2 separate regions of the Homo sapiens genome follow, and region 2 is linked to region 1. Evidence: fine-mapped expression QTL. A gene starts in region 1. The other region holds a variant in brackets. All regions are shown on one strand. Distances are between the middles of the regions.

The links. PIP is the estimated chance that this variant, and not a neighbour inherited with it, causes the effect.
Region 2: its variant is fine-mapped to the expression of ZUP1 in lung (TOPMed, PIP above 0.99).

Annotation. Positions count from the first base shown.
Region 1 is chr6:116,663,364-116,675,786 of GRCh38, reverse strand. It overlaps ZUP1 (zinc finger containing ubiquitin peptidase 1), which reads left to right and starts at 7,021. Exons shown (of 10, transcript NM_145062.3): 1 at 7,021-7,221; 2 at 8,580-9,153. The coding sequence starts at 8,595. RefSeq lists an enhancer at 6,997-7,186 and a silencer at 7,948-8,097.
Region 2 is chr6:116,749,278-116,761,700 of GRCh38, reverse strand. FAM162B (family with sequence similarity 162 member B) reads left to right here. Exons shown (of 4, transcript NM_001085480.3): 4 at 9,006-9,504. The coding sequence ends at 9,104. Among named protein-coding and RNA genes, the nearest start is that of FAM162B, 10 kb to the left of the region's middle. RefSeq lists an enhancer at 8,533-8,702. The variant G/A (reference allele first, on the strand shown) is at 5,414.

The DNA.
Region 1 (12,423 bases):
GTAATGATACAACTACGCAGCCAGAAACTCCAGTTAAAAAACTTATGAATCATTCTTTACCTTGCCCTTACCAGTGCCTCCTGTCTTTCGCTTCTAGCTCCAAAATAGTCCACATCTACACCTAGTCCATCTCTACTGACACTTCTTCTAGCATTCCATCATTTATTTCATAAACTGCAGTAGTATCCTAATTAAGCAATCTGTATCTACCTTGACTCCTTTATAATCTATTCCCTGTCCAGAAGGTGTAGTAATTTACAATTAAATTTTTATTTATTGTAATCAAATAATACAAATATATCATTTAAAGGGTCCAATAATAAGTTTATCGTGAAAATTAACACTTCCCACCTGACCATCCCCAGATGCCGCTCCCCAGAAGCTACTATTTTCAACTTGTTTAGGTATTCTTATTGGTATCTCTTTTCTAATTAAATATTTTAAAATCATACACTGCTATTTCTTAATTTGTAAAGTCATAGACATTTTCTATTGTTATAGATGTAAAATGAGAATTTATTACTCATAACTGCACTAACCTCCCAACATACACATTTACACATACTTCCTGATCGCACATCCTCCAATATAGTTCTATCAAAATTATTTTGGTTAAATCAATATTTAAATTTTTATGTAAAAATTACATTCCTTGTATAGTTTTTTATTGTTCTAAAATTAATTGCCTGTTTTCTGTCATTATCATTTGCTTAATTTTCTAACTACTCATCACTAACTCATCTTCAAACACACTGCTGGAGATCTGTATTAGTTTCCTGTTGCTGCTCTAACCAATTACCACAAACTTGCTGACTTAAAATAACATAAATGTATTATCTTACACTTTTAGAGGTCAGAAGTCCAAAATGGGTCTCACTGGGCTAAAATCAAGGTGTCAGCAAAGTTGTGTTTCTTCTGGAGCCTATAGGGGAGAATCCATTTCCTTGCCTTTTCCAGTTCCTTGAAGCTACCTACATTCCTTGGCTTCTGGACCCCTTTCAGCAATTACATCTCTCTGACCTCTGTTTCTGTTATCGCATCTCCTTTTCTAAGACTGACCTTCCTATCTGTCTCCCTCTCATGAGGACCCTTGTGATTACATTGTGCCTACCTAGATAAACCCCTCTTGTCAAGATCCTTAATCACATCTACAAATTCCTTTTGCCATGAAAAGTAAGATATTCACAGGTTCTGTTAATAAGGAAATAGAATCTTTTAAAAAAATTTAATATTAGAGACGGGGGGGGCGGGTCTCACTATGTTGGCCAGGCTAGTCACCAACTCCTAGCCTTAAACAATCCTCCCACCTTGGCCTTTCAAAGTGCTGGGATTACACGTGTGAGCCACCATGCCTGGCCAGGACATAAACATCTTTGAGGGACACTATTCTGCTTAACAGAATATATTTCTCTCAGTATGGTCATAAACATGAAGTGATCTGTCAGTTGCCTCTTTCCTCCCTCCCTCCCTTTCTTTTTCTTCCTTTCTGCCTTCATTCCTGTCTGTTCTCTCTCATCTTGGTAGAGTTTTTTATGGAATTCCATACGTTCTACTTTCTTTTTTTCTTTTCTTTTCTTTTCTTTTCTTTTTTTTTTTTTTTTTTTTTTGAGATGGGGTCTCAATCTGTCACCCAGGCTAGAGTGCAGTGGTGTGATCTCGGATCACTGCAACCTCTGCCTTCTGGGCTCAAATGATCCTCCAACCTCAGCCTCCTCAGTAACTAGGACCACAGGCACACGTCACCACGTCCGGATAATTTTTTGTATTTTTGGTAGTGACGGGGTTTCACCATATTGCCCAGGCTGGTCTCAAACTCCTAAGCTCAAGCAATCCGCCTGCCTCGGCCTCCCAAAGTGCTAGGATTACAGGTGTGAGCCACCATGCCCGGCCCCATACCTTCCACTTTCTTTGCTTCTTCCCTCATTTTGGTGGGAGCTTCCTGGGAAATAATAAGAAATAATGTTTCAGGAGAAATTATTATTAAGTCATGAATTATCATGTCATTTCATTGATAACTAATTTTCCATTGTTTTTGTTGTTATTCCTCTCTGTATCTCTTATTAGTTGGATGTAGAATCCAATTTCTCATTTGATTATTTTCCTTTCCTGTTTTTCTATCCCTTGTTCTTTTTGTTCTGTTTTCTGAGAAATTTCTTGGGCTTTATCTTCCAGGCCTCTATTAATATGTGTATTTTAAAGTATGAAATATTTTTAATCCCAACAGCTATTTCCTATTTTGGATTTAGAGATTCAATACATTTTCTTATCTATCTGAGGATATTAATTGTGGTTTCCATTGAAATTTTTTTCTCTTTCTTTTTTTCTTCAGAGCTTACTTTTTAAACTATGATTATTGTTTAGCTCTCCATCTTACTTGCCATAGGCTGTACTCAAATGCCTGGAACCCTTGAGTATCTATTCATATTTAAGAATAAGACATTAAAGAAACCTTCTATACACTGTGCGTCAGTGGGGCTTGTTTATTCACCAATTGGCAGCCTTCCCACAGAGTGGTAAAATAGGGACCTGGCTGTATCATTGGATAACTTCCTAAAAGTTGACATCTGTTAGGTCTTTCTCTTGGGACAATTGATTTCTCTGGGGAGGAATTTTCCAACCTCCTGCCTTGGAGGCAGAAATCACATATCAAGATGTGATGGGGGAAAAGGAGCAAGAGGTTCATAATTTAGTATTTAGCCTTCCCTATTTCCCATTTTCAGTCCAGTGCCTTTACCCTAAGGATAGGGTCAAGCCTTTGAACCCCCAGGATAGGGTTCATAGCTGGTTTTTTTGGTTCGTTTTCTTCATGAACTAAATCTGTAGTCTTCTATCTGGAAGGGAAAGAGGAGTCTCATGGCAACCTAGCTGTATTAGAGTTCTTCAGAGAGACATAACCAATACTATATACGAGAGGCAATTTATTAGGGAATTGACACATGATCACAGAGGTGGAAGTCCCACAATAGGCCATCTTGCAAGCTAGAGCACCAGAGAAACTGGTAATGTGGCTCAGTCCCAGCAGCCTCAGAACCAGGGAAGCAGAGGGTTTGGCCCCCACTCTGAGGCTAAAAGCCCAAGAGTTCCTGGGAAGCCACTCGTGCGAATCCCAGTGTCTAAAAGATGAATATGGTGCAATCTGATGTCCAAAAGCAGGAAGGAAAAAGGTGTCTTGTTCCAGAAGGGAGAGAGCAAAGAGAGAGAATTCCCTCTCTTTCCTGTTTGCCCCAGCCTAGCCCTCAGCTGACTGTATGGTGCTTGCCACACTGAGGGTAGGTCTTCCTCTCTCAGTCCACTGACTCACAGGTCAATCTCCTCTGGAAACACCCTCACAGATACAGCTAGAAACAATGCTTCACCAGCCATCTAGGCATCCCTCAATTCAGTCAAGTTGGTAGTGACGGGGTTTCACCATATTGCCCAGGCTGGTCTCAAACTCCTGAGCTCAAGCAATCTGTCTGCCTCGGCTTCCCAAAGTGTAGGATTACAGGTGTGAGCCACCATGCCTGGCCCCATACCTTCCACTTTCTTTGCTTCTTCCCTCATTTGGCGGGAGCTTCCTGGGAAATAATAAGAAATAATGTTTCAGGAGAAATTAACCATCACACTGGTGATGGAGAAAATCTAGAGTTGGAGTTCTAACTGTTCCTTATTCAGACTTTCAGTAAAATGATCCTTTATTTAGTTCCAAATGTCACCATCATTTTTAGAAGTATCTTGTGTTTAATTTCTGGAATTTTCAGATTTCTGGGAAGGAGGAGTGTATTAAGATGGAGTAGGGACCCTACTTAGGGGCCCGTGGGCAACCCCCAAGCATGGAAATAAAGGAAAATATTGAGTTCCTTCAAGGAAAATTCCAGGAACCTAGCTAGCGCTGAGAAATAAATGAGCAATTTGATAAACAAAAAGGTAATAGTAGCTTAAAACATTGGCCCAAAAAAGTCAGGAGATGTTTTATTCCCTATAGAAACTTAAGATAACATTTTAACATATGTCCCTGGGTTGTTTTCCAGAAACCCAGATCCCCCACCAAACAGATCTACTGTCCAACATGATTTGACCCCTGATAATGGGAAACTGAAGACTAAATCCTGATCGCTGTTCTTTGTTCTGAATTTCTTCCTGAGGGGCCTGGAGGAGATCACACCCCTGAGCGAGAGCTAATATTCTTTTCTGCTGATCCCAAATTTTTAGACAAAGCTTTGCCTCCTTAGCAAATCAAACGTCAGAAAATCTTTGAATCCACCTGTAACCTGTGCCCCGAACCACTTCAAGATGTCCAGCCTTTTAAAATCAAACCAACGTATAGCTTCCGTGTATTGATTTATGACGTCGCCTGTAACCTCTGCCTCCTCACCTTTAAAAACTCTTACCTGTAAGCAATGTGGGAGTTCAGGTCTTAAGCATGAGCTACTCAATTCTCCTTCCTTGGTGCCCTACAATAAATGCCTCAACTTTCTCTTGCTGCTATCCCAGTGTCAGTGTTTGGCTGTGCTGTGCTGGGCAAGCAGACCCCAGCTGCTGTGCTGGGCAAGCAGAAACCCATACAAGTCAAGACAGTATGACTTGACTTGGTTTTTGTTGACATCGGTTCTGAGTTAAGTTCGTTATTAATCATTCATCTTTTTTTAGCTTTCAAAGTTTTGTAAAATCTCATTAGCTGTTAGTAGTATTATTTTTATTTTCCTGCTATCATTTTAATAGATTTTGAGAGGCAGAGAAATATAAATTTACATGTTTAATCTTCCATGTTTGTCCACAAATTTCCAGAACGATTTTTTTTTTTGAGACAGGTTCTCATTCTGTCGCCCAGATTGGAGTGCAATGGTGCCATTATGGCTCACTGCAGCCTCAACCTCCTGGGGCTCAGGTGATCCTCCCACCTCAGTCTCCCGAGTAGCTAGAATTACAGGCCACATCACCACGCCCAGCTAATTTTTGTATTTTTTTGGTTGAGACGGGTTTCTCCATGTTGCCCAGGCTGGTCTGGAATTCCTGGGCTCATGCGATCTGCCCGCCTCTGCCTCCCAAAGTGTTGGGATTACAGGCGTGAGCCACCGCGCCTAGCCAATTTTTAAAAACATACTATTTATCATCAGATAACATCACCCTCCTATTTAAATACCTCACTAGTTTTCTACCAGGTCCTACATGATTTGGCCCCTGTCTACAACCCTAACCTCATCTTGTAATCATTTTTCTCCTTACCACATTATGCTCTGGTCAAAAAGTGTTCTTTTTGCTCCAGCCTTAGGCCTTCGTTCTTGTTATTTTATCTGTCTGAAATGCTATTTCCCCTGTTGGTGTAAGGTTTGTTCATCAGCACACTCAACCCTTCATCAAGACCTTTTCTAAACATTCGTATCTCTATAATCCAGTTTTCTTTTCTTTCTTTCTTTCTTTTTTTTTTTTTTTTTTTGAGACTCAGTCTCAAAAATCTATTGCTCTGTCACTCAGGCTGGAGTGTAGTGGCACGATCTCAGCTCGCTGCAACCTACGCCTCCCGGGTTCAAGCAATTCTCCTGCCTCAGCCTCCCGAGTAGCTGGGATTACAGGCACCTGCCACCACGCCCAGCTAATTTTTGTATTTCTAGTAGAGACGGGCTTTCACCATGTTGGCCAGGCTGGTCTTGAACTCCTGACCTCAAATGATCTGCCCGCCTCGGCCTCCCAAAGTGCTGGGATTACATATGTGAGCCACTGAGCCTGGCCAATCCAGTTTTATTTTCTTCATAGCACTTATCATGATCAGTTAATTTACTTTTTATTTCCTCTACCTCACCAGCATGTAAGCCTCAAAAATCCTGAATTTTGTGTATTTTGATTACTGCTGCAGCTCCTGTTGCAAGCAAAACGCCTTTCTAATAGACACTCTTTAAATATTTGTTGAATGAAATAAAGCCTGAATGACAAGATATTTGTGATTTTGGGCTAACATGGTGGCTCACACTTTGGGAGGCCGAGATGGGAGGATCATTTGAGGCCAGGAGTTCGAGGCTGCGGTGAGCTATTTTAGCCACTGTGCTCTGGCCTGGGTGACAGAAAGAGTCCTCCTCTCTAAAAATACATACATACGGCCGGGCACGGTGGCTCACGCTTGTAATCCCAGCACTTTGGGAGGCCGAGGGGGGCGGATCACGAGGTCAGGAGATCGAGACCATCCGGGATAACACGGTGAAACCCCATCTCTACTAAAAATACAAAAAATTAGTCAGACGTGGTGGCGGGCGCCTGTAGTCCCAGCTACTTGGGAGGCTGAGGCAGGAGAATGGCGTGAACCCGGGAGGCGGAGCTTGCAGTGAGCAGAGATGGCACCACTGCACTCCAGCCTGGGCGACAGAGCAAGACTCCGTCTCAAAAAATATATATATATACATACATACATACATACAAACCAAGATATTTGTTATCTTGTAACCTTGAGGAAAGAACCTGGTATCCTTTACCTTCGGTGCATAGCTGGGAGCTTGATACCTAGCAGCATTATAAACCCTTTATTGATACTAAAATAGAGTGCTACTCAGCAGGCCCTAGTGTAGACTGCTATTTGCCCCAGGACCTGCCCTGTGAACTCATTCAGATTAAGTATGAATGACCTCAGAGCCCGGTTTTCTCTCCTAGCAATTGAGTGGCAGGAAACTCGATGGGAGAAGGAAAAACTCGGAAATGGGAGGAATGCAAAAATGACTACATCTCTCAGGAGATCGAGACCATCCTGGCTAACACGGTGAAACCCCGTCTCTACTAAAAATACAAAAAATTAGCCAGGCATGGTGGCGGGCGCCTGTAGTCCCAGCTACTCGGGAGGCTGAGGCAGGAGAATGGCGTGAACCCGGGAGGCGGAGCTTGCAGTGAGCCGAGATCGCGCACTGCCCTCCAGCCTGGGCAGCAGAGCGAGACTCCGTCTCAAAAAAAAAAAAAAAAAAAAAAGACTACATCTCCCAGAATGCACTGCATAGAGACCGGCGTGGAGCGGCGCATTCTGGGATTACTTCTTTTCCGTGGGAGTAAGGAAGTGCTTTTGAATGAGGTACTGAGGGCCAAGGTGTTGGAAGTTCCTAATTCTTTCCTCGGTTAACTGTGAAACTCTGCGTATTGGGAAGGCCTGGCCTCAGTCATCAGGCCAGGAGAGGTACTGGACGCCGCGCACGCACTCGTCTGCCAGCGAGGCCCAAAGGGGAAGCCTAGCGGAGCTCAGTGTGGCAGCTGCTGGCCTCTGGGCCGGTAAGAATTGATGGTCCCCTCCCTTATTCCCCAGGCCCAAAGCTTTGACCCAGTTAGTGCCTGCTAGTTTCGTGTGCCTGGCTTGTGCCTTTGGCGCGGAACGTTTGGGAGACTCGGCCTTGCGGTCTTCTGACCTCACCCACCACGTACCTAGCTTGGCACTGGGTCCTTCATGCCTCTCACTCGCTTCCTCTGAGGCACCTGGGTACTCTCTTGTCTCTTACCCGCTTAATCTGAGTCCATGTCCAAGTTCATCATTCTGTGTCTGACCGTGTCCCAGCCACCGGAAGAGAAGAAACTCCGGGTGTGACATTAATCCCACTGGGGGCTCGGGAGAACTGCCTTCTAAAATCAGAGACTGTATCCATTTGTCTGGAGAGAAATGAAAAAAATAAGGACAATGTAGGGAGGTATTTTAAAGGTAAATTTATTTAAATGAAGTGATAGTGTCATTACTTTTCCTGTTTGATTTTAAATAGTCTTTAGCTGAACGATGACCTGTAGTAGGAAGGTGGTGGCGAAGTGATTGCTTTTTTTAAAATTATTTTTTTAACACTTTTATGTCAGTAGTCAGTACTTTATTTGTCCATAAAATCCAAAAATAACTACCTTTGGATTTTACAGTAGTCTTTGACTGAACCTCAGAGAGATGAGATTCCTTACCCAAAATGATGAATCTGAAATTATTACCCAGTTCTCTTGACTCTGGAATAAGTGCTTTTTTCTACTATACCACTTCTGCTTTTATTCTTGGGGCTGAGAGTACAGGCTGTGGAGCACGACGGGGTTGGCATTTTGGCTTCCACCTTTTTCTGCTTGTGGTGACCTGTCTGAGCCAGAATTTCTTTATGTGTAGAGCGATAATAATAGTACTTAAATTACAATAATAGCACTTAAATAGCACTTGATACATGTAAGACTCTAAGTTTACAGTGTTAAACTCTACTTGTAAGATGTGTTTATTTACCTCCTCAATATAATCAGCTTCAGTATTCAGTATTTAGATATATCAGTTGATAAATAGGTTTCTTCTCTTCATTTTTTTCTTACCTGATTTATCTTACCTGGACAATTTTTTAAACGTTATTTTTTCTCCACCTTGGGCCAGAGACATTTTTTGAAATATTTTATTTTTAAAATTACTTGTATTCATTATTATTGCCTTTTTTTAAAAAAAAATAAATGAAATTTTGGTTGATATTTATAAATAAGTTTTTGTATTTGAGGAACAGTAAGTACATTGAAAACTTCTTCATCAAAATAATCCAGCGTTAAAGACCAAGTAATTGTCTCAAATCATTTTATGAAACACATTTTTTCTTCAAATCTTTGAAACCTAATGTTATGTTCTTTTCTAGCTACTTGTCAATACCATGCTTTCCTGTAATATTTGTGGTGAAACAGTAACCTCAGAACCAGACATGAAAGCTCACCTAATTGTTCACATGGAAAGTGAAATTATATGTCCATTTTGCAAGTTGTCAGGTGTGAATTATGATGAAATGTGTTTTCATATCGAAACAGCTCATTTTGAGCAGAATACACTTGAAAGAAACTTTGAGAGGATAAATACAGTACAATATGGAACTTCAGATAACAAGAAAGACAACACCCTACAGTGTGGAATGGAAGTTAATTCAAGTATTCTTTCAGGTTGTGCATCTAATCATCCAAAAAATTCAGCTCAAAACCTGACTAAAGATAGTACTTTAAAACATGAAGGCTTCTATTCAGAGAACTTAACTGAATCTAGAAAATTCCTGAAAAGTAGGGAAAAACAGTCCAGCCTGACCGAAATAAAAGGATCTGTTTATGAAACAACATACAGTCCTCCTGAATGTCCATTCTGTGGAAAAATAGAGGAGCACAGTGAAGATATGGAAACTCATGTGAAAACAAAGCATGCCAATCTTTTAGACATTCCATTGGAAGGTAAAGTTTTCATTTCATTATAAATTATAAGTTTACAGCCTCAATTTAATATGTGGTATTTTAAAAGTTGGTTTGTAAGTCAGCTTACTACAGATGTGTTTTGAAATCCATTTTATGTCTATAACATTTTTCATTTGCTGTTACTGAAATATAAAAGTACATTATGGAAAAGAATTTTAATGCAGATATAAAATGTTTCAGCTACATTGAGAGTAGTTTTGGAACTTTCTGTCTAGTTTCCAGAGGGTATTCTTTTTATTGTCACTAACCCAGTAGCATCTGGACTGTCCTGGACTCTCTGACTTTGCATTGAGTTCTATTTTGACTCCATTATTCTGTTATGATTGGAGAACAAACTCTCTGTGATATCAGTTCTTTTAAATTTGTTGAGGCCTGTTTTATGGCTCAAGACACGAGCTATCTTGGTCATGTTCTGTGGATACTTGGGAAAAAAAAGTGTATTCTGCTTTGTTGGGTGGAATGTTATATGTATGTCACTAGATCCTGTTGTTTATGTTCAGATTATTTATATCCTTGCTTGTTTTCTATAGTAGTACTGTCTAGTAGTTCTATCAATTTTTGAGAAGGGGTTGTTGAAATCCCTGATTATAATTGTAAATTTATCTATTTTTCCTTTCAGCTCTGTCAGGTTTTGTTTCATGTATTTTGAGACTCTATTGTTGGTGTGTACACATTTAGGATCTTATGTCTTTTTCTTATTGTTGAACTTTAAGAATTTGTGGAGCCAGGTGTTGTGGCTCATGCCTGTAATCCCAGCAAGTTGAGAGTCCGAGGTGGGCAGATCCCTTGAGTCCAGGAGTTCGAGACGATCCTGGGCAATGTGGCAAAAGCTCGTCTCTTCAAAAAAAAAAAAAAAAACCAAAAAACTAGCCAGGCCTAGTGGCTTGCGTCTGTAGCCCCAGCTATTTGGGAGGCTGAAATAGGAGGATCACCTGAGCCTGGGAAGTGGACGCTGCAGTGAGCCATGATCACACTACTGCACTCCGCACTCCACTCTGGGTGACTGAATAAGACCCTGTCTCCAAAAAAAAAAAAAAAAAAAAGAAAAATTTTTCTGTATTTTGGATACAAGTTCTTTTTTGGATGTGTATTTTGCAGATATTTTCTCTTAGTCTGTGGCTTGTCTTTTTATTCTTTTAACAGTGTCTTTCATGAAGTAGAAGTTTTTAATTTTAATGAAGTGCAACTTGACAATTTCTTCTTTCATGGATCATGCTTTTGGTGTGTCTAAAAACTCTTTGCCAACTTCTAGAAGTTTGATAGTTTTGTATTTTACATTTAGATCTGTGATACATTTGAATTACTCTATGTAAAAGGTATGAAGTCAGTGTCTACATTCTTTTTTAATGCATTTCTCTGATTATGAAATCAATCTTTTTTTGTATAGTTATTTTAATTTCCTCTATTATGAACTGCATATTACATTTTTTGTACACTTGAGTTACATGCATTTTTCAACTGTATATTGTCAAATATTTTTTGAGTTTTTTTCAGTTGCTTTTAAAATATATTTTCAATACTAATCCTTCAGCTGTATTCCATAAGATGTTGCTTATCCTTGAATTTTGTGCAGTATTTGAATTTTATTTTTGTTTTCTATGTATTGTCTAAAAAAGTATTCTTTACTCTGAATTCAAAAAGCTATTCTCATATATTCTAAAAACTTTAATGTTTTATATTTTCACTTTTTAAAATTTTTTCTGGATTGTGTGTGTGTGTGTGTGTGTGTGTGTCTGTACTTGTGTACATGTGTATATTTTGTGAACTTGGGATCTAATTTTTAGTTTTTCCCTGTACAGAAACCAGATATATCTCTGATTTATAATATGGTTTCTGTTTTTTATTACATTTTCATATCTGTGTGGGCCAGTTTCTGGTCTCTTACTTCTGCTGTATTTATCTATGTGACTTTTGTTCCCTTATTACACCACCACTTTAATAGCTATTTTGTAAAATGTCATCAACATCAGATAGGACAGTTTTTCCCTCGTTCTTCATTTTCATCATCAACTTAGACCTTCTCATTCTTTCTTTTCTTTGAGTTTTAAAGCCATATTATCAAGTTTCATAAAAACTCTGTTGTCATTTTGTTTTAAATTAGATCAAAGTACATCTCCCCATTAATTCAGGTCATCTTTTGTATCCTTTAATACAATTTTGTGTGTGTGTGTTTTTTTTTTTTTTGATGGACTTTTGCCCTGTCACCCAGGCTGGAGTGTAATGGCACGATCTCTGCTCACTGCAACCTCTGCCTCCCAGGTTCAAGCAATTCTCCTGTCTCAGCCTCCCAAGTAGCTGGGATTACCACTGCCCACCACCAGGCCCAGTTAATTTTTGTACTTTTAGTAGAGACAGGGTTTCGCCATGTTGGCCAGGCTGGTCTGGAACTCCTAACCTCAGATGATCCACCTACCTCAGCCCCCCAAAATGCTGGGATTACAGGCGTAAGCCACCGCGCCCAGGCTTGTGTTGTTTTTTCATTGCACATTTGTGTTAGCTTTATTTCTGTATAGTTTATATTTTCTGTTGCTTTTGTAAATTAGATTTTTTTCCCTCTCATCTAAGAAACTTTTGCAGTTTTATAGAAACACTATCAATTTTTATAGATAGTTGAGGTATCTAGTCTTATTCAACTATTACTAATATTATTTTATTTTATATTTTTTGAGACAAGGTCTTACTATGTCACCCAGGCTGGAGTTCAGTGGCATGATCATGGCTCACTGCAGCCTTGATCTCCTGGGCTCAAGTGGTTCTCCTGCCTCAGCCTCCCAAGGGGCTGGGACTACAGGCCTGCACCACCACGCCCAGCTAATTTTTTTTTTTTAATATTTAATAGAAATGAGGTCCTGCTATGTTACTCAGGCTGGTCTTGAACTCCTGTGCTCAAGCAGTCTTCCTTCCTCAGCCTCCCAAAGCATTAGGATTGCAGGTGGGAGCCACTGCGTCTGGCCTGTTAACGAATTTTAATAATTCTACATTAATTCCCTTGAGTATTCTAAGTAGATCATTTTATTATCTGCTAATAATGAAAATTTATGGACTGCTGCAAGGAAAAAAAACAAGTGTATTGAAAAATGCCTGACAATCCTTTGCTGACACAACATTTCCTGTAAGTTTCTCAGGACCAGTAAACTGGTGAATTTTGGTAGTCTTAGGAGTCTGAATGTTTAGTTGCGGTTAAAAAAGACCTGTTGTCATTAGAAGTACAGAAGTGAAATAGGTAAATAGCTAGATTTAACCAATGTT
Region 2 (12,423 bases), 86 kb before region 1:
TATTTATATATGTATATATGTATATATAAGTATATATATAAGTATATATATAAGTGTATATATATGTATATATATGTGTATATATATATATAAAAAATACTGGAGATAAATTTGTTCATGGAAATTTGAGTCAACAAATTAACACTATATGGCCAGGAGGGACAAATGCTTGTTTTAACTTATAAACAAAACAATTTACACCGTGGTTAAAATCTGCAGAAGACGGAGAACTTTGTTGTTGAAAGTTATCCAGACTAGATCATTCATTAAATCAGGAACTCAATTAGCTATTGCACAGAAGTATGAACTAGTTAGAAATGCAGAGCTTGGAAGTGATTGCCAAGGTATTCTAGTTTGTCTGGATCCTTTATGTCAGCCCTTTCCTTGCCTTTCTCAATGTATGGTTTCTGTTTAATACCTCTAGTGAGAAATTAAGAGCTGACTACCCTCTAATTTTGTTTTCTGCCTCCCAAAATCCTTCCATCTACTGGTCACTTTTTACCACAAAGAGCAGCCCCACAAGTATTTTGACATTTCTAACACATACCTATGAGTATTTGCTTCTTCAGTTTTAACCACTCTAACAACTTCCTTCTACCTTTGAGCTGTCCTCTCAATACACTCCAGTTTTAACAGTGCCCCTCCTCATCGTGGCACCTGCAACTGAAGCCATTAGAGCTGGATTATAACATTTTTGGTTGTGAACACTGGGTTTCAATAGTGCATACGTATCATTCAGAATAGTTTGCTTGGCTCCATACATCCTCACTCTCTGGGCGTATTTAGCTAATTACCATTCTGCCCAATTCTGTGATTCTGTCCTTTACTCCTCAGGTGCCCAAGTGTGTCTGAGCCCACTAACTTCACACAGGGATTAGGACTTACAAGCCTACTGATATTATATAAATGTCCTTTCATTCCTATTAGCATGGAAAAAATCTATGCTTTGAAATTGTTCTCACCAAATGAGAAATTTTGAAATGTTTACTGGACTGAACACTCAAGCATGTAAATAAATAACTTTGATAATATTTTGTTTTTAACCTAACGTTAAATGACTGCCTGCCAAATTGATGATTCTCTAGTTTCTAGGAATATTTTGATGATTAGTGTATTGCCTCATCTACATCAAAAAGATAAACATTAATTAGACAATTTGTTTACTTAGAATCACCCTCTAATAATTTATTTATAATGGCACTTTAATGTTTTTAAATCATAATCACAAGTTTCCAAATGAGACATTAAGACCAATTAAACTTAATATATATTTTATCAGCAAGTTGGCATATTAGAGATCTACTGATGTCATCATTTTATTTTCAACACATATGATTTGAAGGAAAGGTTTTTTCATTTCCTGTTAAAATTCCATATTTCAAATATAATTCTATTATAAATCAATAGCCAGGGATTTTCTCTGTGTGAATCTGACACAAAAAGTAGCAACTGAGAATTGAGTTTTATGTGTAGCACCAGTTATTGCTCTGTTTCCTCTTCTCCAAAAGTGTGATAGCAAACACTGATTTTAAATCATTAATACACTAAATACTTTTGAGCACCTGAGACATGCCAGGCACTCTGCATGTAGTTATTAGAATATCATGGAATTAAAAGACAGGTATTTTGTAGTAGGGAAAATGGAGAGTGATCAAGTAAACACATAAACTAAAAAGATCTGAGGAATTCTTAGTGCAATGAAGGAAAGGAACAGGATGATAAAATAGTAACACCCCAGGAGAGGCCATTTTTGATGGAGTGGTCAGGGACGTCCTCTCTGAGGAGGATGAGAATAAGCTAGCCATGAGAAGACCGGGGGAAGGAAAGAACAGCATGTGCAAAGCTTAGAGGTGAGAAAGGGTCTGGTGTGTTAAGAAACAAAAAGGAGCTAGTGTGGATGGAGTATAATGAGCAAAGAGAAGATGGTATGAGACAGGGAGAGTCCAGATAGTGTCAGGCCTATGGATCACTGCAAATAGTTCAGGTTTTTAAAAATACATTGGGGATCCAGTGTAGAGTTTTAAGCAAGATAGTGACAAGATTTAAAAATTTTCACTCTCCTCTTTATTCAAAACCCAGTGAAAATAAAGATCAGGCCGGGCGCGGTGGCTCACGCCTGTAATCCCAGCACTTTGGGAGGCCGAGGCGGGCGGATCACAAGGTCAGGAAATCGAGATCATCCTGGCTAACACGGTGAAGCTCCGTCACTACTAAAAAAAAAAATACAAAAAAATTAGCCAGGCGTGGTGGCGGGCGCCTGCAGTCCCAGCTACTCGGGAGGCTACGCAGGAGAATGGCGTGAACCCAGGAGGTGGAGCTTGCAGTGATCCGAGATTGTGCCACTGCACTCCAGCCTGGGCGACAGAGACTCTGTCTCAAAAAATAAAAAAAAAAAAAAAAAGAAAGAAAGATTAGAAATAAGGATCCTACTTAAAATAGCAACAAACAAAAAAGGTAAGGCACGTAAGAATGAAATTAAAAATCATGCAATATCTATATAAAGGCAACTTTTAAACACTACCAGTGGCCACAAGAGAAGGTATAACCTAAGAAATTTTTATTTGGAATAGGAAGACTTGACATTTTAAAGAGAGCGAACTTCTCTAAGTCTATAAAGTTGACATGATTGCAATAAAAATAGCAATAGGATTTGTTTTGGAAGTAGACAAACTAAGTCTAAAATTTATATAGAAAAATAAGCAAAATACACAAGAAAATACTAAAAATAATAGTTCTAAGGGAGGACTAGCTCTAAAATATATTAAAACAAAACAACAACAATAATTAAAACTGCAGTACTGACATACAAATAGACAGGCAACTTAATAGAACTGAATTCAAATCACATAAATAACCCACTACATAGGGATTTAATATATGAAATAGTGACTCTGTATATGAGTGGAGAAAGATAAATTAGTCAAGAAATGATATTGGGACATTCCAACTATACTTTCTACATAAAATAAATTGCAGTTGGATATAAGATTTTCACATTAAATGTGAAGCCTTAAAATCACCAAAAGAATATATGAGGGAATTCTTTATAGTGGTTAGGTAGACATTTCTAAATATAGAACAAAACTGAGAAGCTATACAACAGAAAAGATAGATAAATTTAATCATATAAAGTTTAAAATTCTGCTTGGTAAAAAGTGCCATAAATAAAGTAAAAACACAAATGACAAACTAGGAAAAATACAAAATAGATCACAAACTAAGAGCTAATTTTCTTAAATTATAAGGAGCTCCACTAAATAAAACAGCAACAACCTTTTATTTTAAAAAATGGGTGAAAGATACAAAAAGGCAGAATTTGCAGAAAATAAAATGCACATGCCTCTTAAACACAGGAAAAGAAGTCTAGCCATCCAACTATTTCATGCTGTCTTTTCAGACCTTACACCTCCACAGTCCTCCCCATTGATGACCTTTCCTTCCACCTCACTGAGAGAATTGTAGCAGCCCAAGGAGCAGTTTCCAGTCTTATGACACATAATCCTGTATATTTTGCTTTTCTGCCTATTGTAAATGATTCTTGCTCCAATCTAGAAGCTCTTATTAATTGCGTGGATCCCATTCCATTTTGCCTTTTCAAGGTTTTCATTCCAGGAATTCTCAGGTTTATTTGCTCGTCATTAGTTGTTTTTCTTCTCTACTGTATCATTTTTTATCAAAATATAGAAATGTTTCTACTTCCCTCTTCAAAACCAAAAACAAAACTTCTTTTGGTATAGCTGCATTTCTCTATGGCAAACCTTTTCAGTAGACCTGTCTATATACACTGTCTCTGATTTCCTGTCTCATTCCGTCTGATCAGGCTCGTGCCTCAAACGCTCCATCAAACTGCTGTTATCAAGGTCACCAATGATACACTCATCTTCATTGACCTATCAGCATTTGACACAGTTGGTCTCCCCACCCCACCCCTTTTTTTTTTTTTTTTGGTGGAGGAGGACAGGGTCTCACTCTCACCCAGGCTGGAGTGCAGTGGCATGATCTTGGCTCCCTGCATCCTCTGCCTGCCAGGCTCAAGGGATTCTGCAGGCTCAGCCTCCTAAGTATCTGGGACCACAGGTGTCAATGACCATGCCGGGCTAATTTTTTTGTATTTTTTGTAGAAATGAGTTTTTGCCATGCCACCCAGGCTGGCCTCAAACTCCTAAACTCAAAGCGATCCTCCTGCCTTGGCCTCCCAAAGTGCTGGGATTACAGGCACGAGCCACTGCATGCATCCAATAAATTGTACTTTGTTTGTGAATGACACAAAAACATTTTCCCTAAAATTTTATTAACATGTATGACATATACCGTATTATATATTTAACATATTTTCATATAGTAACAATACAACTGAAATGCTTTATTATTATCTACAATTTTGCGATTTTATATTCATTATAATATTGTAACTGAAAATAAGACACTTATTGATACATAGATCCAGTAAAAGAAATACCTCTTTAGCTGTGATTACTAAATGGTGGTGCTAATACTTAATTTTATCCACCAACTATGCCAAAGCTTTTGTTGAAATATGCCCAGTAATTTCTTACCCTCCCTGATGTTCTTCAGCTATTTTATTCTTGCAAAATAATTGGAAGATATAGTAGTTTTGAATTTTGTGCCAAATGGATTCAAAACCCCATAAATTGTTTAGAGACTTTATTTAAGCTTACAAAATTATCCATATAAGTATTTAAAGACGCCATGTAATTTTCTGGCCAAAAAAGAAACCATTCTTATTTATTAATATCTATTCTAATGGTATTGAAATGAATGAAAACAGGCATACCTCAGAGATATTGTATGTTCAGTTCACAATAAAGTGAATATTAGAATAAACTGAGACACGCAAATTTTTTGGTTTCCCAATGCATATAAAAGTTATGTTTATAGTACACAATGAGTTGTAATCTTTTTGCTGGTGGAAGGTCTTGCTTTGATGTTGATGGCTGCTGACAGATCAGGATGGTGGTTGCTGAAGGTTGGGGTGGCTGTGGCAATTTCTTAAAATAAGATGACAATGAAGTTTGCCATATCAGTTGACTCTTTCTTTCATGAAAGATTTCCATGTAGCAGGCAATGCTGTTTGACAGCATTTTCCTCACAGTAGAACTTCTTTCAAAATTGGAGTCAGTTCTCTCAAACCCTACCACTACTTTATTAACTAAGTTTATGTAATATTCTAAATACTTTGTTCTAATTTCACCAATGTTCACAACATCTTCACCAGCAGTAGTTTCCATCTCAAGAAACCACTTTTTGCTATTTGTAAGAAGCAACTCATCTTGTGAAAGTTTTATCATGAGATTATAGCAATTCAATTTTGTTTTCAGGCTCCACTATGAATTCCAGTTCTGTTGCTATTCCACCACATCTGCAGTTACTTCCTCATACTTCCTCCACTGAA[G/A]GCTTGAACCCCTCAAAGTTATCTATGAGGATTGGAATCAGCTTCGTCCGAACTCCTATTAATATTGACCTCTTCCTATGATTCACAAATATTCTTAATGGCATCTAGAATGGTGACTCCTTTCCAGAAGGTTTTCAATTTACTTTGCTCAGATCCATCAGAGGAATCACTATCTATGGTAGCTATAGCCTTACAAAATGTGTTTCTTAAATAACAAGACTTGAAAGTTGAAATGACACCTTTTTCCATGGGCTGAAGAATGGATGTTGTGTTAGCAGTCATGAAAATATTAATCTCCTTGTAAATATCCATAAGAACTTTTGAGTGACCAGGTGCATTGTCACTGAGAAGTAATATTTTGAAAGGAATCTTTTTTTTTCTGAGAAGTAAGTCTCAACAGTGAGCTTAAAGTATTCAGAAAGCCATGTAAGCAGATATGCTGTCACCCAGGCTTCATTATTCCATTCGTGGCACAGGCAGAGTAGATTTACCATAATTCTTAAGAGCCCTAGGATTTTCAGAATGCTAATGAGTATTGGCTTCCACTTAAAGTCATCAGCTGCCAATAGCTCCTAACAAGAGAGTCAGCCTGTCTTTGAAGCTTTAAAACCAGGCATTGACTTCTCTCTATCTCTGAAAGTTCTAGATGGCATTTTCTTCCAAAATGAGGCTATTTTGTCTTCATTGAAAAACTGTATTTTAGCATAGACTTCATCAACAAAATTAGCTATAATAGATCTTCTAGATGACTTGCTGTAGCTTCTCTATTAGCACTTGCTGCTTCACCTTGCACTTTTGTTATGGAGACAGCTTCTTTCCTTCAGCCTCATGAACCAACCTCTGCTAGCTTCCAACTTGTCTTCTACTGCTTTCCCACCTCTCTCAGCCTTCACAGAACTGAAGACAGTTAGGGCCTTGCTCCATATTAGGCTTTGGCTTAAAGGAATGCTGTGGCTGGTTTGATCTTCTTTCCAGACCACTAAAACGTTTTTTATATCAGTAATAAGGCTGTTTCACTTTATTTAGGTGTTCACTGGAGTAGTACTTTTAATTTTCTTCAATAACTTTTCCTTTGCATTCACAACGTGGCACAAGAGGCCAAGCTTTTGACCTATCTTGGTTTTCAACATGCCTTTTTTCACTAAGCTTAATCATTTCTAGTTTTTTAAAGTGAGAGATGTACAACCCTTCCTTTTACTTGAACATGTAGAGGCCATTATAGGGTTATTAATTGGCCTAATTTCAATATTGTTGCATCTCAAGGAATAGGGAGGCCCAAAGAGAGGGAGAGAAATGGGAGACTGGCCAGTGGATGGAGTGGAGAATACATACAATGTTTATCAATTAAGTTAGCTGTCTTATATGGGCATACTTATGGCACCCTAAAATAAGTACAATAGTAACAACAGCAATCACTGATTACAGATTACCATAACAGATGTTATGAAAATGAAAAAGTTTGAAATATTGCAAAAATTAGCAAAATGTGACAGAGACACGAAGTGAGCACATGCTGTTGGAAAAATGGAGCCTATAGACTTGTTCCATGCAAGGTTGCCACAAACCTTCAATTTGAAAAAAACAAAAAAAGAAGAAGAAGAAAGAAAGAAAGTCACAATAAAGCAAAGCACAATAAAATGAGATGTGCCTTTATATTCTTCTGTATTATAGAACTGTCACAGGTTCCTCAAGATATCTCCAACTCCTGACATAGAGGAGGATTCTCTATTCCTCAACTCTTCTATTAAATGTTAGCAATTTTTCTTTTTAAAAAAAGATGAAATGTGTTCCTATTGCTTTCTTGACCTCAGTGGACATCGTAGTTCTTATCCTACTTTGAAGACTGTTTATTTAGACTCAGTTTGACACAACGTTTCAATGCTTGGGTGCTGATAAATCTCATTACATTTTGGGGAAGCAGTTGACAATTCTGCTTGATTAGCAAATATTTTCTTCTGCCGAATCAGTGCTGAATCAGTATCTTCCCTCCCTCAGATTCTGCTCAATCTGAGTTCAATCTACTGGAGCTGCTAAAACTATGTCTAGGTTGAGAATATCTGGATTATAAAGGAATTTGGTCTCCCTGCACTTCAAAGCCACTCCTCTACAGAAATTCTGGCACATAGTAGCCAGTCTCTCCATTCTTCAACCAAGAAAAGAATATTTTTGGCACATAGGGAAATAGTTAGTTATAAATGGATATATGAAAAACACTGGAATAGGCCAATGTGACATTTTTCACTTACCCTTTGTTGGAGAATGCAAACTAGCCATTGTCCTTCCATAAAAATCCTCAGAAGCTCTGAAGTGAGAGCATTGGGAATGAAAATCGTTTATCTTTTATGAAACGGTTTCTTCGCTTGGTTTCCGTGGTACCACACTCACGTAGGTTGTCTGTTGGCCACGTCTTCCAAGTTTACTCTGCCAGTTTCTCCTATTCTCCTGGACCTCATAACAGTGGAATCTCCCCATGGATCAGTCTTTAGTCTTTCCGTTCTCTAGCTACACTCACTCCCTTGGGGATCTTACCAAGTCTTCTGGATTTAAACACCTTCTATATTCCAAGGACTCTCAAATTTATATTTCAGCTAATGTCTTCCTTCTGCACTTCAAATTCATATAGTCAGTTGCTTACTTAACATTTCCCTTTGGATGTCTAATGGAATCTCAAACTTAACGTGTCAAAAGTTGAACTCTAGATCTTCCCCCAGACAACCCTGAGCCACCCTTTTCTGTACTGTTTTCCTCCTCTCAGTTGATGTCAACTCTATCTTTCTAGCTGCTCGTGGATAAGTCATCAGCAACCCCATTGGCTCCACTTTCAAAATACAGCCAAATTGGAGCACTCCTCAGTATCTCTCCTGAGATACCAATATACATCTATTGCCTGGTTCATTGCAATATCTTCTAAATGGTCCCACCACTGTCCCTCTTGCCTGTCTCCAATTCATTTTTCATTTTTAATAACAATGCATGTACCTTAAAGAAATTGTGGCAGATGGAGATGCAGAAAAGGTTAGCAAGTTCAGGTAAATTTGGGGAAGTAAAAAGGATAGAACTTTGTGGTGAATTCATTGTGGAAGCAGAAAAGAAAATGGAATAAAGAAGTGAAAAGGCCTGGGTTTTTTTGACTTTAGCAAGTAGGTGGGTGATGCTGCCATTTATTGAGATGTGTATGGCTAGGGAAAGACTGGTAGGCAGGGGGAACAAAATATGTCAACTCTCTATTTTGGCTATATTAAATGTGAGATGCACACTAGGTATCCTTCAATATATATTAAATGCTTATTTATTTTACTAAGGACTTTGTATGTCTCTCAGTTTGAGGACTTATAGCTTTCCTCACTTCTGAAAAAGTCTATGCTGTCATAACTTCAAATATGGCCTCTTTACCCATTCAGTCTGTTCTCTCTTCCCATTATTAACATATGTTAGAACTTCTAATTCTATTCCCTCCTGTGTATTTCTATCTCAAATACAAATTTTTCCAGTTTCCAGAGAGTCACAGTGAGATATATATACATATATGTATATATATATATATACGTGTATCTATATATATATATATATATATATTTCTTCCCCCCCACAGGCTGTAGAACGACATGAATCCTTAACAAGTTGGAACTTGGCAAAGAAAGCTAAGTGGCGTGAAGAAGCTGCATTGGCTGCACAGGCTAAAGCTAAATGATATTCTAAGTGACAAAGTGTTCACCTGAATACCATCCCTGTCATCAGCAACAGTAGAAGATGGGAAAAATAGAATATTTACCAAAATATCTGCCATGGTTTTATTTTGGTAACAAGAAGCACAATGTCTTTTTTATTTTTATTTTTTAGTAAACTTTTACTGAAGTATACCATGCATTCAAAAAGTGGACAAAACTGTATACAGTCTGATAGATATTTATGTCGTGAACACCTGTGTAACCACTGCCAAAGTGAAGATGTAGAATATTGGCAACACTTCACAGCCTCATTCCTGCCTTTTCTCAGCCATTACCTCCCAAACATAGCAGTTTTTCTGAGTTTCATCACCTTTGATTCATTTTGCCTGTTTTTGAACTTTATATAAATGGATTTATACATTATGCACTTGTGTGTGTGGATTATTTACCTGACAGTTATAAGGTTAATCCACAAATTGTGTGTACCATTAGTTCATCCATTGTCATTGCTGTATTCTGTTGTATAAACATACCACAATTTATTTTGATATTTGGCACAGTTTCTGGCCACTACATATAATGCTAAAATGAGCACATTGTATATGTCATTAAAATGAGGTTGAACTAATCATTAAGGGCTCATTAAAATCAAAACTAATTTTCAACCAAAATTTCACTGTATTTAGCAGCTGGGTAGTACCTCTGATTATTCTTTTTATAGTTTGTAACTAGGTGAAATAGGTTGAATTATTAATTCTAAAACCTATTCCTAAAATGGTAAAGTACTAAAACAGTAATTGTAACAGCAATTTTGAAAATGACAAAAATGTTAGAGAAAAAAAATGGTATACATTAATGATCGTCAAACTTGCTTAAGCCCTAAAATAACTTTTTAAAATTACATATCTCATCCCTGCACATTTTTAACTTCACATTTGTTATTTTTTAACCATAAATGTAAGTATTATAAAAGATATAACTTCTGGCATATTGTATAGTTCATGTGCTTTAAGTGTATTTTCCATCATAACCTTGAAGCCACATAATTAGCTCAATCAGTTTGTGGAGGATGTCTGCCTGTCCATTTTGAGGTACAAAGCCAGTTCTTATTGTCAAACTAATGAGCCAAATCAAACTTATACAGTCACAGATCATTTAATGATGGGGATACATTCTGAGAAATGCATTGTTAGGTGATTTTATCATTGTACAAACATGACAGAGTATACTTACATAAACCTAGATAGTATATATATTTTTATTTATATGTATTTTTCATATGGAAAACCAAACGTCCCAGCACCATTACTGAATTATCAGTCATGTCCCCTACTTGATCTGCAGTGCCAATACCAAGTGCCATATATCAGACTTCTATGTATGCTCCCTATGACCTTGGGGACCACTGTTGTATATGTGGTTCATTCATCTTACACCAAAATGTCATTATGTGGCACGTAACTATACTTTTTGTTAGAAAAAGGCTTACTTTGATTTGAAAATGAAAATGTTAATATATATTCCTGTGACAATAATCTCATTTTTGAATCCTAACTCTTAGATAGAGAAGGCATGAAGCATTGTTATGAGTCTGTGTCTTGGATGAACCAAGGCACTGCTGCTTTATTTTTTTTTTAATTTGTAAATTTATACACAATAGATGTACATAAATTCAGGGTACATGAGATAATTTGATATATTCTTATAAGGTGTAAAGATAAAATCAGTGTACTTATCTGTCACCTTAAATATTTGTCTTTATGCTAGAACCATTTGAATGATTCTCTTCTAGCTATTTTGAAATATACAATAGATCACTGTAAACTATAGTCACCCTACTGATCTATCTAACACTAGATCTTACTTCTTCTACCAAACCATATGTTTGTACCTGTTAATCAACTTATCTTCATTGCCCTCTCTCCACCACTCTCTCTGGCCTCTGGTAACCACCTGTCTATGCTCTGTCTTCGTGAGACCCACTGTGGCACTGGCTGCTTTCACATTTTGCACAGTGACTCCCTTTGTTTTGCTCTCATGGAACTCCCTCTCTGGAGCTATTAATTCTAAAATTATTCTTTGTCATCCAGAAGGTTTTTGTATCACAAAGCACAGCATGAGTAAGGTTCAGAATGAGAGTGAAGTGCTCTCTTTTTGCACAATAGTGTAAGGTTGGTTATGAGGAGAGGTGAGAAAGGAGAACCGTCAGACCACATTCTTGGGCATATACATTGTAGGAGGGAGTATATATGGGGTTAAAATAACTGGAAATCAATTATCTTAAAATTATACTACTCTTTAAAAGTCTTTTTATACCTTGAGGATTCCTGGAATATTCTAAATATTGAGATACTCAGAGAGAATATCTATAAGAATGAATATGATGATTTCCATTTCTGGTTACATAGAAGATGAGATGTCCAGAGAAAGTCTTCTAGTATTGGACTAAATAATCTGGACAAAATATTTTTTTAAACATCTTTTAAAATACTTGGTTAAACTGTTGGGAAAAGAAGGAAGATCCTTGTCATAGATAGTCATAGATAACAAAGTAAAAATCTAGAGTGTTAATAAGCATATCTGATGCTGCTATTTGCCATGGGCATATCCAGTTATCCTAAGTGGTTATATGCTGGAGAGAATAGTCAAAAACATGAGACCTGTAAAGGCTGAGAGAACATCAACACAAAGGCAGAATCCCAGAAAGGTTACACTATCCATATGGTTGAACTGGAGTTTGGTAGTGATGGGGTGCACATATCAGAGTTCTACCAGACAAATGGAACAATAGGAGATATAATGTCCTATTTCTCTGGTAGAATATATATCATATTCATCCTTATAAATATTCTCTTTGAGCTGTTCAATAATATTTAGAAATTTCAGGAATCTTGAAGGTGTAAAAAGACTTTTAAGGAGTAGCATATTTTTAAGATAATTGAAAGTGTGTGTATACTTACATGTACATATGTATGTATATGTAAAAGATAGAAAGATGATAGATAGATAGATAGATAGATAGATAGATAGACAGACAGACAGATAGATTATAGGAATTAGCTTACCTGATTGCAGGGGCTGGCAAATCAGAAACCTGTAGGGCAGGCCAGCAGGCTGAGAATTCTCTGGCAGAAGCTGAAGCTACAGTCCAAAGGCAACTTTTTTTCTTCCTCAGGGAAACCTCAGTTTTATTATTAAGGCCTTTCAACTGATTGGATGACACCTACCCAGATTATCAAAGATACCTCCTTTAATTAGACTTATCTGACTATAGATGCTTACCCAACTACAGAATACTTTCACAGCAACATTTAGATTCATGTTTAATTGGAAACTGGGTAC